Linked DNA regions of Homo sapiens. The main gene of each other region encodes a partner of the protein of the gene in region 2 in a complex. Each region holds a gene or a part of one and is shown on either strand. Other genes may lie near its edges.

What was found.
Region 1: the proteins of NXT1 (region 2) and NXF1 are in contact, whole or in part, in a crystal structure (PDB 4WYK), measured with the Homo sapiens proteins. Residues at the interface, in NP_037380.1 of Homo sapiens: Phe6, Lys7, Val10, Asp11, Cys14, Glu18, Thr44, Val46, Trp47, Asn48, Gly49, Asn50, Ala51, Phe61, Met64, Leu65, Pro66, Ile72, Ser73, Val74, Val75, Asp76, Cys77, Gln78, Pro79, Val80, His81, Glu83, Ala84, Thr85; in NP_006353.2 of Homo sapiens: Ala366, Pro367, Thr368, Thr369, Leu370, Pro371, Pro372, Cys373, Lys374, Gly375, Tyr377, His411, Gly413, Cys415, Cys416, Ser417, Leu418, Ser419, Ile420, Pro421, Phe422, Arg440, Asn441, Val442, Lys443, Lys444, Lys446, Pro448, Thr449, Arg451.

What each region holds. Positions count from the first base shown.
Region 1 is NC_000011.10:62,802,431-62,809,462, reverse strand, and holds the start of NXF1 (nuclear RNA export factor 1), read left to right. Parts: upstream 1-4,022; 5' UTR 4,023-4,106; coding exon 4,107-4,134; intron 4,135-4,373; exon of another isoform or gene 4,374-5,305; coding exon of another isoform or gene 5,306-5,381; intron 5,382-5,484; coding exon 5,485-5,671; intron 5,672-5,890; coding exon 5,891-6,044; intron 6,045-7,032. Other genes in the region: STX5 (syntaxin-5), read left to right, coding at 1,835-1,994.
Region 2 is NC_000020.11:23,346,358-23,353,796, forward strand, and holds the start of NXT1 (NTF2-related export protein 1), read left to right. Parts: upstream 1-4,433; 5' UTR 4,434-4,704; intron 4,705-4,972; exon of another isoform or gene 4,973-5,110; intron 5,111-7,439.

The DNA of each region.
Region 1 (7,032 bases), on a different chromosome or scaffold from region 2:
GACCTCGTGATGCACCCACCTCGGCCTCCCAAAGTGCTGGGATTACAGGTGTGAGCCACCACGCCCTGCCCATAATGTCATTTTCAAACTAAGAAAATTAACAGTTCTCCAACATGATCCAGTAATCAGCCCATGTTCAAGTTTCCCCATCTGATTTTTTTTTTTTTTTTTTTTTGAGACGGAGTCTCGCTCTGTCACCCAGGCTGGAGTGCAGTGGCACGATCTCGGCTCACTGCAAGCTCCACCTCCTGGGTTCAAGCCATTCTCCTGCCTCAGCCTCCCGAATAGCCGGGACTACAGGTGCCCGCCACCATGCCCGGCTAATTTTTTGTATTTTTAGTAGAGACAGTGTTTCACCATGTTAGCCTGAATGGTCTCAATCTCCTGACTTCGTGATCGGCCTGCCTCGGCCTCCCAAAGTGCTGGGATTACAGGTGTGAGCCACCATGTCCGGCCCCCATTTGATATTTAAAACAAAAGTTTTTATCTTTTTTCTTTCAATTTAAGACCCAGGAAGATTCACATTTTGTATTTGATGTGTGTCTTCAGTGGGCCTTTTGTTTTATTTTTCATGACATCAACTTGTTTTGTTCAATGTTAAATTAAATCTAACACTGATTAAATTAGTGCTGCGATGATTACATTAGTAGGCACTTGATGAGGTTATCCCTTTTATTGCTGATGTCAATTTAATCACTTGTTCAAGGTGCTAACTATCAGATTAAGCACACTCATCCCTTGGTATTGTGGGGCATTGGCTCCAAGAGCCCCAGAGGAAACCAAAATCCATGCATCCGCAAGTCCCATAAAATCTTGTCATATTTGCATGTAATCTACTCACATCCTCCAATATACTTATTTATTATTATTTTTTTAGTAGAGACAAGTGTCTTACCATGTTGTTCAAGCTGGTCTCCAACTCCTAGGCTCAAGTGATCCTCCTGCCTGGGCCTACCAAAGTGCTGGGATTACAGCCTGGCCAAAACTAGGGTCCATATACCTTTTTTTTTGGTGTTTTTTTTTTTTTTTCCCCCTGAGGCAGTCTTGCTATGTCACCCATGCTGGAGTGCAGTGGCACAATCTCACTGCAGCATCAAGCTCCTCAACCTCCTGGGTTCAAGCTATCCTCCCACCTCAGCCTCCCGAGTAGCTGGGACTGTAGGGTCACACCAGCACACCCAGCTAATTTTTGTATTTTTTGCAGAGATGGGGTTTTGCCATGTTGCCTAGGCTGGTCTCAAACTCGTGAGCTCAAGCCATCTGCCCACCTCAGCCTCCCAAAGTGCTGGGATTACTGGCCTGAGCCACCATGGTTGGCCATAGAGCTTTTTTTATCCCCTGATTTCCTGTCCGTGTCATTATGTTTTCCTTTTTCACTCAGAACCATGATTTCCTGACTGCAATGGTCTGTGAACATTTTTCCCCTTACAATAAATATAATACATACTCACCAGATAAAAATGTAAATACTGATGAGGAAAAATTGTAACTAACATTTTCGGGGCTCTTGTGGGTTAGGGACTTTATACTAACTCATTGAAGACAGACAGTAGCCTGAGAGAAGGTAGGGTTTGGGTTATCCTCATTTTGCCGGTGAGGAAAATGAAGCTTGAAGTTAGACTAACTTAGAGTCTTAAGCTAATAAATGGCAGAGTTGGTTTTCAAACCAGAAATAACTTGTTTATAGTACCCTTCCAAAGCCTTTTCTATACACAAATATATATAAGAATGGGATCATATTGTGACCATCTTTCCATGTCAATAAATGGACTTCAACAGCATTCTTTTTAATCCAGTGTCCTTTTGTTTCCTCTTCTCCCGGCCTTGTCCCCAGGATCGACGAGAACGTGCTAGGAGCCCAGCTGGACGTTGAGGCCGCCCATTCAGAGATCCTCAAGTACTTCCAGTCTGTCACCTCCAACCGGTGGCTCATGGTCAAAATCTTCCTCATCCTCATTGTCTTCTTCATCATCTTTGTGGTCTTCCTTGCTTGAACCCTCTCTACTCTGAGGCACTCTGTTGGGGTTTGGGACCCTCCTGGGAAGGCAAGTGGCCAGTGCTGCCACTGAGCCTGTGCAGGGTACTTGGGAGAAAGGCCCTGTTTCCCTGGAACTGCTAAGAATGACCACTGCCCCTGATCCCCCACCCCTTGCCTCTGGCCACCCTGTCCTCCCCCCACCACCCTCAGGCCTATGAAACACACAGGGTTCTAGATTTGAACTCTGCTGTGAAGTGACTGGAAGGGAGCAGAGGCCAGCTGGGGGCCAGTGGGGGAGGTTGTTTCCACTAGGAGATTTTTATAAACCCTCTCCAGCCTCTCCCAAAGGAAGCGTTGGCAGCAAAGGGAGATGATGCCCTTACCCACCTTCCTGTGAGTGAAGAGAGGAAGCAGCCCCAGGGACCAATTTTCCCAATTGACCTCTTTCTTCCTCTTTCACCATGTGAGGCAGGGAGCCCTGAGCCCTTCAGCTGCCTGCACAACCCCTGACATTGGCTGCTGGTGACTCAATCTGCCAAATGTGCTGCAGCTCGTTTTCTCCCAATTACAGCAAGACTGTCAGCCTCACTAGCCATGTCATCATTTCTGGGTGGGAGCGTCGAAGGGCCTAGGCAGCGAGTGGAGAGAGCCCACTGCCCAGTACCAGAACTGAAAGGGTTGGGCTAATGGCTCTGCCAGGTATCACTGCTGACACAGGCTATTTTGGGCTCTGACACACAGCTGCCTCTAGGCAGGGGAGAACCAAGTGTTGCAACACTTCATTAGCGTGGAAACTTCCTTTCACACAGGGGAGCAGGATCCCAGAGGGGGTCCCTGATTGGGGGCAACTTCCAGGACTATCTCAAGCAGTGTTTGGACCTGTTTCATCTGTATCCTCCAACTATTTGGCCGTAATTCTTCCTTGAGCTAAGCGAGGCAGAAGCTCTGCCTGCTTCCAGGAGTGGAAGGTGAAGAATTTGTTCCCAACTCCAGTTGAGGCTTTTGATTCCCTCCAAGCACTTCACCAAATCAAAGCCAGTCACAGAGAATGGAGACACCTGCCCAGAATACCCACCGTCCAGGGAGATTAGTGTGCTTTGTTCTTCCTGACCGAGACTCACAACCACATTCTGAGGTCACTCGAGTGCCCCTGTCTCATACATTCCAAAGGAAGTTGAAGCTATAGAGACAACAGTCAGGGGCTGGTGGTGGTGCTTTTGGGGGTCTAGGAGAGCCCAAGGCCCTGATATTTTAAAATGTCCTCCTCGGCATCTCCAGCAAGTTGCCACTGCTGGTGAGCTTCACTGTCTGCCCCGTTGACACGATGGGTTTCTAGTAGGGGACGCCATTGATGGAAGGTCTGTGAAGACAATGCTCGCCAAACCCCTGACAGATGTCGTATCATTTGACTCAGCAACTCAGGGCGGGGCGGGGTGGGGGAAATTCATAACACAAATTCATTTATTTCACAAATATATGTTGAGTTTTTACCATGTGCCAGGCATAGTACCTGCCGAGTCAAGCCCTCGAGGAAAAAAAGCCCTTAATTAGTCAACGTTCGAGCTCACATTCTAATTCTCAACTTCGTGATTTGTTAATCCATCTTATAGGCGAAGAAAGCGAGGTATAGACAAGGAGCCGAGCTGAAACACTGGCTAGATTCCGGTAGGGGTCTGAGCCATCACTCCCACCTGGAGGCGCGGTCTCCATTCCTCTGAAGCCCTTTGTGCGGCCCCCTTCCTCACTGAGTTCTGGGCTGCGGCGGCAGCACTGTGCTCTAGCACTAACTCTGAAGCTGCCAGGGCAGCGTCAGCGGACAGATGAAAAGGTGCGGGGACATGCTGGCTGCCAGCCGGGGTTCCGCAAGTTCAGGTCTTGGGCGGGGCGTGGAGGGCCAGGCCCCGCCCCTCGAACGACGGCCTTAAGTGTGCGCACGCGCAGGGGGCCGCGCTTTCTCCGGGCGGCGGCACCGCCCACAGCCTGGGACGTCAGCGGCGCGCGACGTGCTTTGCTGTATAAATGCGGTGGCGCCCGGCGTAGGGACACTTCGGTCCTGAGCGCTTGGGAGTTAGGTTGTTTGCCGGCGTAGCGGCCAGCGCCTGAGCCCGCCCTTGATCTTCGCTGTGGCATGGCGGACGAGGGGAAGTCGTACAGCGGTAAGTGCTGGTCTTCGGGTCGGGAACTGGCTATCTGGGGCGCGGGTGGGCGGCGCCGGCCTAGGCCTCAGCCCCCGGGGCGTGAGGCCGCTAGGGGCCCGGCGTCCGCGGGGAGCGGCGCGCGGGGGGCCGGGCACTCGAGGTGGACACCCGAGTTGTTGACTCCTGGATTCCTGCTGGCATCCTGGTGTTGGGGGACCTGCGGCTCGGAGCGGATGGCTCGGGGGTAGGGTGACGGGATTCCTTTGAACTTTGTGGGTGGTTGATGCCTGTCAGTTAGGTTTGGCGGCCTGACTCTTCCTTTAATGTGAGTGAGTGCCCTGCTCGTGGGCTGCCCTGATGCCCTATTTTTTACTGCGTCCAGTCGGTCTTGAACTCTCGGGCCTGGGCTTTGGCTTAATATTCGAGACTTACACATCAACTGGATATTCTAGTCTGAACACTACACTGGGTGTTAGTTCTTTGTAGTAAGTTAGGAGTGCGTGGTGGAGGTTGAAACCGTGAATTTAAAACTCTCGTTTTCCACCCCCTTAATGTGGAATAACAACAGCATTTCTTAAGAGTGTGTGTGGGGAGGGGAAATGAGATCATTCCTATCAAGTGCCTGAAGCATAGTGGCCGGCACTGGAGAAAGTTCTCAGTGAATGTTAGCTGCGCCTTCTATGTTCTTTTTTCCTAGGGTCATTTGTTGAGATTCATTGTTTACAGAGTGCTGGGTATTAGGCAGACCTCTTTTGGGAGTTAGGGACCTTTTTTAAGACGCCAGTCCTACACAGCATGAATCAGAAGGTCATCTTCCTGGAGAGCATTCCAGGGTCCCTGGTTAAGCACCCTAGCCTGGCACTGCCACTAGAGCCTGAGTCTAGAATTTGTCTCCTGAGTTAAAGGACATTTCTGGCCATGGAAACGAAGAGCTCCTCACAAAACTTCAAAGTGGCAGTTTGAGAACAAGGAGAATTTTTAGAGGATCCTTAAACTGGTCATATTTGTAACTGGCGTCTGCACTGTATAGACAAAGTACTGAGTGGCAGATTTCAGGTGGCTTTCAGAGGTCTGATTTGTGTTCAGTTACACTTTTGGGTCTCACATTTCTACATCCTGCTTCTCTCTAATTCCAGTTTCTACTTCATTTTTCAAAAGCCCTACACAGTTTTCCAGTAACTTTTCCCTGATGCTGCCCTCCCACAGAGAGGGTTCTTTCCTGTGGATAGGGAGCGGAGTTTGCATGGAGATGGCCTCTGTCGTTAGTATGTATCTCTTCCAATAGTTCAGAGTACTAGAAGCTATGATTGCCACACCAAACCGGACCAGTTACTTACTTCTAATTTGTGTTCCTGTTTCTAACTCTAGAACACGATGATGAACGCGTTAATTTCCCTCAAAGAAAGAAGAAAGGCCGGGGTCCCTTCCGGTGGAAATATGGTGAAGGAAACCGTAGGTCTGGAAGAGGCGGTTCTGGTATTCGGTCTTCCCGCCTTGAGGAAGATGATGGAGATGTGGCAATGAGTGATGCCCAGGATGGTCCCCGAGTACGATAGTGAGTGACCAGTTGGTCTGGTTTGAATTTAGTGGCTCATGAGATTATATGGCCCTTTTACTGTCCATGTCATTTCCTTTCCCACCTGTTAGAGTGAGAAATGCCAGGACTAGCTTAGTGATTAAACAGTCTTAGTTGTAGTCCCACTAACAGTGCAGGAAGGCCTTTGAGAAGACTTTCCTAGCATTTGTGGTCATTTTATTCTCTGCTTACCCACAGCAACCCCTATACCACCCGACCTAACCGTCGGGGTGATACTTGGCATGATCGAGATCGCATTCATGTTACTGTGCGGAGAGACAGAGCTCCTCCAGAGAGAGGAGGGGCTGGCACCAGCCAGGATGGGACCTCAAAGAACTGGTTCAAGATTACAGTGAGTACTTTGAGAAAGTAGATGGTACAGTAGAGATAGGAGGCCACGCTGAGAGTGGAGATGTTTAATTTTATTCCACAAAAATTATTATTATTATTTTTTTTAAATGGAGTCTTGCTCTGTCACCCAGGCTGGAGTACAGTGGCGTGATCTCGGCTCACTGCAGCCTCCGCCTCCCGGGTTCAAGCTATTCTGCCTCAGTCTCCCGAGTAGCTGGGACTACAGACACCCACCACCACGCCCGGCTAATTTTTGTATTTTTAGTAGAGACGGGGTTTCACTGTATTGGCCAGGCTGGTCTCGAACTCCTGACGTCATGATCTGCCCGCCTTGGCCCCCCAAAGTGCTGGGATTATAGGCATGAGCCACCGCACCCAGCCCAAAAATTCTCCTTGTCATCTGATTACTCCACACTCAAGTATCTATCTTTTCTCCTAGGAATCAGTATCTTCCAACACCTTAGAGCAGGTTCAGAGAAGGGGTGGAAGAGAAATATGAAAATTTTGGTTGGGGGAGGGAGTAATTCCTCTGGATGTCTTCATTTGGCTCAGGCTGAGTGTGGGGCTTGGAGTCCCTGGAGTGCCCTGGAGTTCTCTGAGGGGCAGGCAAGGTGTAAATAATATCTTGGAACTTTTAGAATAAATAAAATTGATTTTTTTTTGAGAGATTATAAGTGTAAATGGGCTGGGTACAGTGGCTCATGCCTGTAATCCCAGCACTTTGAGAGGCCGAGGTGGAGGATCACTTGAGGCTGGGAGTTCAAGACCAGTCTGGGAAATACAGCAAGACCCCTTCTCTACAGAAAATTTTAAAATTAGCCGGGCATGGTAGTACATGCCTGTAGTCCTAGCTACTCCAGAAAGCTGAGACAGGAGGATCGCTTGAGCCTAGGAAATGAAGGCTGCAGTGAGCTATGATCGCACCACTGCACTCCAGCCTGAGTGACAGAGTGAGGCCCTGTTACTAAGAAAAAATAGTAAGTGTAAGT
Region 2 (7,439 bases):
TCACACAGTCACAAAGGCCTCCCTGATCAAGGGAAGGACTCAACACCATGTCCTGACAGCGGGTGGCAAGGTAAGGTTCCAGATGAGGACATGGGACCAGAAATTTATTTTGTGTCCATTTTCAGAAAATGTAATCCATCATAGTAAGGAATCAAGGCAACCATTCTCCATAGCTCGTGTGTACGCATGTGTACATGTAAGTGTGCATGTGTACATGTAAGTGTGCATATGTGAGTGTCCATGTGTGCATGTGTGTGTGCATACATGTCTTGCTCCAGTTCTCTCCTCTGGTCACATGACCTTGACCTCTGCTTCATCCTCTGTCTGTGCTCATGGCCTCAGTTATTCCTGCCTTCTCAGAATCCCCCGCTTCCTTTGGGAACAGCTCCTCCACATTACTTCTTTTGAGAAACTTCCTCCCCAGGTGTTTTTGGCAGGACTGTCCCTCAAGCCACCCATCCCTCCTGGGCAGCAGAGGGGTGGCACATGACTGAAGTTGGGCCAATCCAACTCTCTCCTGAGAATCTGACTTTAGTGGAGAATCCCAGGTTCTAGACACTGGTCACAGCTCTGTCAGTCCAACTCAGCCTCTGAGGCATCCATTGCCCAGTTCTTGTTCCCAGACTAAAAGAGCCACCTTACCAGTGCCTTCTGTAGACTCTGCAAGCATCCTGCAGTCTTCCATTAAATACTGATAAATATGTGTATTTAGTTCCAATTCCACATAGAGGCTTTGCAGCCGTCTGACCTCTCCCACAATTCCAGATGGCTGGTGGCTGAGCTGGGAAGAGGGCTGAGATTCAAACCAGAAATGATCCCTACAACCTTCTCAGACAAACGGCATCATTGCAGGCTGGACAAATGCTCCAGATGGTGCCTCCTTTATACACTGCCATTTAATGTCTACAGTGTCCACACCCCCATTTTACAGAGGCAGTAACTGAAGTACAGAGAAGGCAGAGCTCAGATTTCACAAAACTCTGTCTAACCCCATAGGGTTTGCTCCTTCAGTAAACCTCAGAATCTCCTCAAAAGTCAGGTCCCCAACTGCCCTCCTGGAAAAGCAGCCCCAGCTCACTCTGAACTGGCAGTGGCTCAGATGATCCTGCTAAGGCTGAGAGACGGAAAAGAAAGTGTTTTTGGTGGCAGTACATTAGAGTCACAACTGCTTTGCTGTCACCGTAGATTGACTGGCTCCAAGTCATGCAGCCTCTCATGGCAAACAAATGCTGTTAAGATCCTGCGCCAGAGAACAACATTGACAATGAGGGAAAAGATCAATCCTCTATTTACAGACTTAAAGATCCTTAAATCAAGCCTGTCATCAGAGCTGCCAAGGACTCTGCCTGTGTGACCAGATGTGCCCTTCCTCCCTGGACGGACTCCACGCTGCACATGGGACCACTGGGCTCATCTTCAGAAGGGCCCATGCAATTTGGTGACAAATCCCACCAATTTGTCAATACACTTCTTCCAAGTTTAAAAGCCAGTCATTGGAGGGATTGTTGGCAAATAAGGAAGTTGCTATAGATGCAAAATGTCAAAGCATGATTCTGCTTTCCCAACGCTTTCTGGATGCTACTTCATGCTCGGCCCCATATGAAGCACTTAGCATGCATTGTTTCGTTCGCTCTTCACGTCAGCCCGAGGAGATGGATATGACCATTGCCCCTATTCTACAGAGGAGGCAGCTGAGCCTCAAAGAGGCTAACTCACTTGCCACAGCCACCCTGCTAATGCTTAAGCCACACTAGTCAGGTTGCAAATAACTTTATGCTTATGCCCAATTTTAAATAGTACAAAAGATAAAAGGATTTCCTGGCTCTTGAAACTGAAAAGTCCAAACTTGAGGGATGATTTGACTCCCAACATAGTCATCAAGAGCCTGATTTCTTCCCAGCTTTCCTGTCTGCCTCATCAAGGGTCTACCACTCAGGGCAGCAAGATGGCTGCAACAGTGCTATCCACACACTGTGAGTCCAGAAGGGAAGGGAGAAAAATCTCCTTCCCCAGAATCCTTCAGCAAACACCTCCAGGCTCAGTGGCCCTAATTGGGCCTCCGACCACCCTCAGCTGTGCTCAACGCATACAGTGCCAGTCGTGTGTCCTTTGGAACCAGGGATGTCTCTGACCTCCCCAAACTCCAGGATCATAGTAAGGGAGGAGACCACCCCTCATATTGTCTTATGCCCAATTTCTGCCTCCAAAGAAAAAAGTAGTAAAAACTAAAAGGCAGAAATGAAATCCACAAGCAGACAGCCCAGCGCCACACCCTGGGCCTGGTAAAGATTGACTCCTGACCTAATTGGTTGTTTGCATAAAAAAGGCACTGTGAAGATCCCTGTCCTGTCCTGTTCCGTTCTAATTACCTGTGCATGCAGCCCCAGTCACATACCCACTGCTTGCTCAATTGATCATGACCCTCTCACGTGGACCCCCTTAGAGTTGTGAGCCCTTAAAAGGGACAGGAATTGCTCACTTGGGGAGTTCGGTTGTTGGAGACGTGAGTCTTGCTGAAGTTCCCTGGCCGAATAAAGCCCTTCCTTCTTTAACTTGGTTTCTGAGGGGTTTTGTCTGCGGCTTGTCCTGCTACAAATAGGGGGAATAAAAGCCAGGGTTGCTTCCAAAGAGAGCAGGGAGTGAGTGTTGAGGACAGATCATCACAACTGTGCAGTTGAGGAGCATGATTTGAACCCAGGTTTGTCTGTTCATTCAAACAGTATTTATTGAGCCCTTGCTTTGGGTCAGGCACAATTTTATATGCTGGAGACACAAACCTAAAAGGACCCTAACCTAAAAGGCAGACCCCACAAACCTAAAAGGCAGAACAGCTGCCTTTCAAAGCTAAAGTCTCGCATTTTTAAAAGGCCTTGGAGCTGCATTAATGTTCTTCTAATTTTTCTAGGTATGAATCTTCATACTTTTCTAGGTATGAATCGACCCTGTGACACCAGGATGGTTCTTTGTCAGCCTCCTTGTCTATAAAATCAGAAATAATGGTACCTCCCCCAATAAGTTATGTGAAACAAATTAAAGGGGCTTATTATACAGGAAACAAAAGCAGCACAGCATCCAAACTACTGAGCGTGCAGTAAATCAACGCATTCCCACTTCCATTCCATCCACGCTGATTTAGATCAATCCAAGTATCACTGCCTTGGGGTTCAAAAGGCCATGTTAGTTCACAAAGCCCCGAAAATGCTCTTTCACACTCTCTGCTCAGCCTCCAACGTGTCTTTTTAATAATCCAAACTTTCCACCTACTTAACTGAAGTGTGTGGGGGGAGAGGGTGCGGGGGGGAAGGGGTGGCCTATACTAAATAGCCCAACTGTTTTCCACTTGTCCTGAAATCTGAGACCAAGATTCTCTTAGGAATGCAAGCAAAGGGAGCCGACGGGACGCCAAGAAAGCACAGGTTAAACTACCTCACTTCATCTAGCCCCATTTCTCTCCTGGCTTTTCAATTAATTATTCAGCCTCAGACCAGCAGATGGAGCTGAAAATGTTGTCTAAAGAAATGAGGTTTTTCTTTTAATTTACAAGCTATAGTTTCTCATGCCTCCACACTGAATGGTTACATCCTGTTGAGCCTGTTCGTAAAGTTCAGTAAAAATCCAGTTCTCATTCCAGAACAGCTGAATCGTAGCTATGAACGCGGAAGAACAGAGTCCCAACCCCAGCCGGGCCCGGGTTTCCCGGGGCCCCTCAAGCCTCAGGGCAGTGGAGAGCCGCCGTCACGCCCCCGCCTCCCCCACGTCCCACCCTCGCCCCAGTCTCCTCCCACTTTTAGCTACTTTTCCCATCTGACTAAAACTGGCTTCCTCCGTGTCCACCAAGATGTCGCCTCTAAGTGGCCTAACTCCTAAAGAGCGCGATCGGCTCAAGCACTCCGCCACGCGGTTTCCACGGGGCGCGGCCGGCGTTGCCCTCGCCGTGGCCTCAAGCATTGCGGCGCCCCACATGTTGCCAGACGGAAGGCCTCGGCGGGGTCAGGCAGCTGCTGCTGGCCGTGACTACATCACTGGTGACGTTTCACGAGACTTTTAACTGAAATCACTCCAATACAGGCGCATGCGGGACGAGGGGAAAGCATCTCACCCGACCCCACACACCTTCCCCTCCCTCTCCAGCCTAGCGGCCTCCGCTCAGCGGAAAAAAAAGCAGACGCTACTCCCCGCTCTAGGTGCGGGACCTAAGAGGTTTGGCCCAATCAGGCATCCCACCTAACCAGACGGGCCGGAGTCTGTGGCCCGGTTGGACCAACGAAAACTCTAGGGCGGATTTGCCGGGATTTCTGGGAAAGTGACACTCCCGGAAGCTACCGCCTCTTATAAGCCACACATGGGCGGAGTTAGCCTTCCGGCCCGCAGTCCCACTGGCTGACTTCGCTGCCCGTCACGGGAATGCGGGAGAGGGCGGCGCCGGGGCGCTCGCGTCTGCGTGGAGACCGGCTGGCCGCGCGCGGGAAGCCGCGGAACTGCGCCGGAAAGTCCCCCGGCTCTGGGGCCCCGGTGACCCAGAGTAAGCCTCCAAGAAGGAGGAGGAGGAGAGAAAGGCGGCTCTTCCCGTGCCCCTACCAGAGGCTTCGGTGGGCCCACCTTGTGACCTCCGCGGCCGGCCCCTCAGTGGAACTGCGTCCCACGCGGGGGGCGTCCCGACCGTGGGGGCCGCGGCCCGCGCTGACCCTGGACGTCGCCGCGCAGGTACGTTGCCGTCCCCCGGCGGTCTGACCCCCGAGACAGCCCCTAGTGCATACCCCACGCCCTCCTCCATTGTCGAGAATGAGACACGGCTGTGCCTTTGTCCACGTGGTAGAGTTGCCGCCGCGGTGAGGCTCTCGCCTGTGCAAAAAGCGTGGCAGCGAATTCTCATCAACGAGGGGAGGCGCGTCCCCTCACAGCGCAGCTCTCGGGTCTGAGGAGGGCCGGGCAGGGCGTGCGTCTGTCTAGGTTTGAATTAAAGGCGACTCACAGGAAATAAGGCCATGCCACTGTGGTAGCTTTTCCCGTCCATCTCCGGACACTCGACGGTGTGGGTCGTGCGAGGAGGCGGCAGTCTTCACAGCCTCTTACTCTAGTCCTCACGGTCAGGTTCTTTTTCTGATTTGACACAGACAGCGGGACTGACGACCTCATAGGTAGCTGAAAACCGTAAGTGGAGATGGTCCTTCTATGGTGTGTGGGGGCGTGGCCAGTTGTTAGATTGTGTTTGGAAAGACAGCCAGGGGCGGAGAAGAGGGGCATTTCTGAGATGATGGGGGGACTGGTGCCATGGAGGGAGGAGGAGTGAGGTGGAGATCGGGAATTCCAGCCAAAGAGAAATGGGGTCCCTGGGAGAAAATTCCCACTCTAGCAGTCCTGGAGTTGTGCTCATGGAGACTTGCTTACGCGAGTACAAGGACAGCGTTGTATTGACAAAATTTCAGCCCTCAGTCTAGTCTTGTAAACGATAGATCAGGAGTGTACTTAACCGTCGTTACTTTGATCCAGCCCTAGGTTTCCCTTTTCTCATTTGTAAAATTGTTATAGTAATACCTTTTTCATCCATTTGTGGTAACATTTAAATGAGGTAATTTGTGTGAAGCCCTTAGCAAACACAGCGCTTCTTAGTCGTGGGTTCCGCGTGGGGTGGATTCAACCAACCTCAAATCAAAAATATTCTTCAGAAAAAGAAAAATGCGTTTGTACTGAACATGTAGAGGCTTTTTTTTTCTTGTCATTATTTCCTAAACTATACAGTATAACAACTATTTACATCCCATCTACATTGTATTAGGTATTATAAGTTACCTACAGATGATGAAGGTATATAGGAGGATGCTGCGCATAGGTTATATCAAACAGTACACCATTTTATCAGGGACTTGAGCATCTGCAGGTGTTGGTATCCTCGGGGGTCCTGAATCCAGTTCCTCACAGATACCGAGGGACCACTGTACTCAGTCCAGAGTACAGTTGAGGCTTAACTATGAGGTCTGTGGAGGGCGTGGAAAGACCCACGTCTGAAATTGGCTCTTAACTGCTCATTTTTAGGACAGCTTCCCTCCCAGCCAGCCCTTTACCAGAGGCAATGCACCATCTTTGCAGCCGTTATAAGTACCTGGCTCTTTCCAGCCCTATGTGGAATGTTTTATTTATTTCATAAGCTAATCATTATAAAAAAAAAAGTCTTTTTTTTGAAATGAAAAAAAACTGTTCACTAAGTTTGTAAGTATAAACTATTTTAGTAATGTCCTCTATTTTAGTAATGTCCTCTTTTTTTTAAGTGAAATATTTTAATTATGGAGAAAAGAACATAACAGTTGTACCTGTACCCTGAAAAAAGTAAATGTCAATTTTTTAAATGCTTTTGGACTTTTTTATTTGGGGGACAATGTGACATTTCAGCTATAGTTCATATTCTGTGTCCACACACCCAAGAGCTTTGAAATCTAACATGCCTTTCTGTGGAGGCACTGTGACTCCACAGGACTTATCTGGTGGATGTTAGTACCTGTGTAAGCTGGGTGTCCTCCCTTCTAATCCCCACTCACCCAAGAGGTTTGCTGCTTCTAGCTTATCATGGGGATTATGGCTGCCATTTTGATTCTGTCCTCATGTCATTTGTGTTTCTACCCTCTTAAGAAACCTGCCTTCTCTGCCTTCCCAGTTCCTCCTGAGTGAGCTCATGATAGACTTTCCTAGACTCAGCAGCTGACGAGCATTTCATTGGTTTGGTTGGCCTTTATTGGGCCAGTGACCACTCTTCCCTTCAACATGGTCCACTGTCTTTACCAAGGGGCTGTCATGTCTGTTGCAAGCATTCAGGAAAGAGTGGCCTTCCATACTCAAATGTACTCTATTTTATAAAATGTGATTTTAAAAATTCGTGGTCCAATCAGGCCTCCTTATCCTCTGGGAATTGATTCCAGCAGCCCCCCTAGCCCCACAACAGACCAAATCTGCTGATGCTCCAAGTCCTTGATATAAAATGGCGTTAAGGCCGGGCATGGTGGCTCATGCCTGTAATCCCAGCACTTTGGGGGGCCGAGGCAGGCAGATCACCTGAGGTCAGGAGTTTGAGACCAGACTGGCCAACATGGCGAAACCCTGTCTCTATTAAAAATACAAAAGTTAGCCAGGCGTGGTGGCGGGCATCTGTATTCCCAGCTACTTGGGAGGCTGAGGCAAGAAAATCGCTTGAAGCTGGGAGGCAGGTGTTGCAGTGAGCCGAGGTCGCGCCACTGCACTCCAGCCTGGGTGATAAAGTGAGACTGTCACAAAAACAAAATGGCATAGCACAGTCAGCCCAACGTATTTGCAGGTTTCGCCCTGAGGTTGGCTGAATCTGTGGATGCAAAACCCTCAGATATGGAGTGCTGACTATAACTAAATGTTTTTAAACTAAACACTTAAGGTATACTATCTCAGTTTGCCACAGTGGTAATCCCATCTTAACA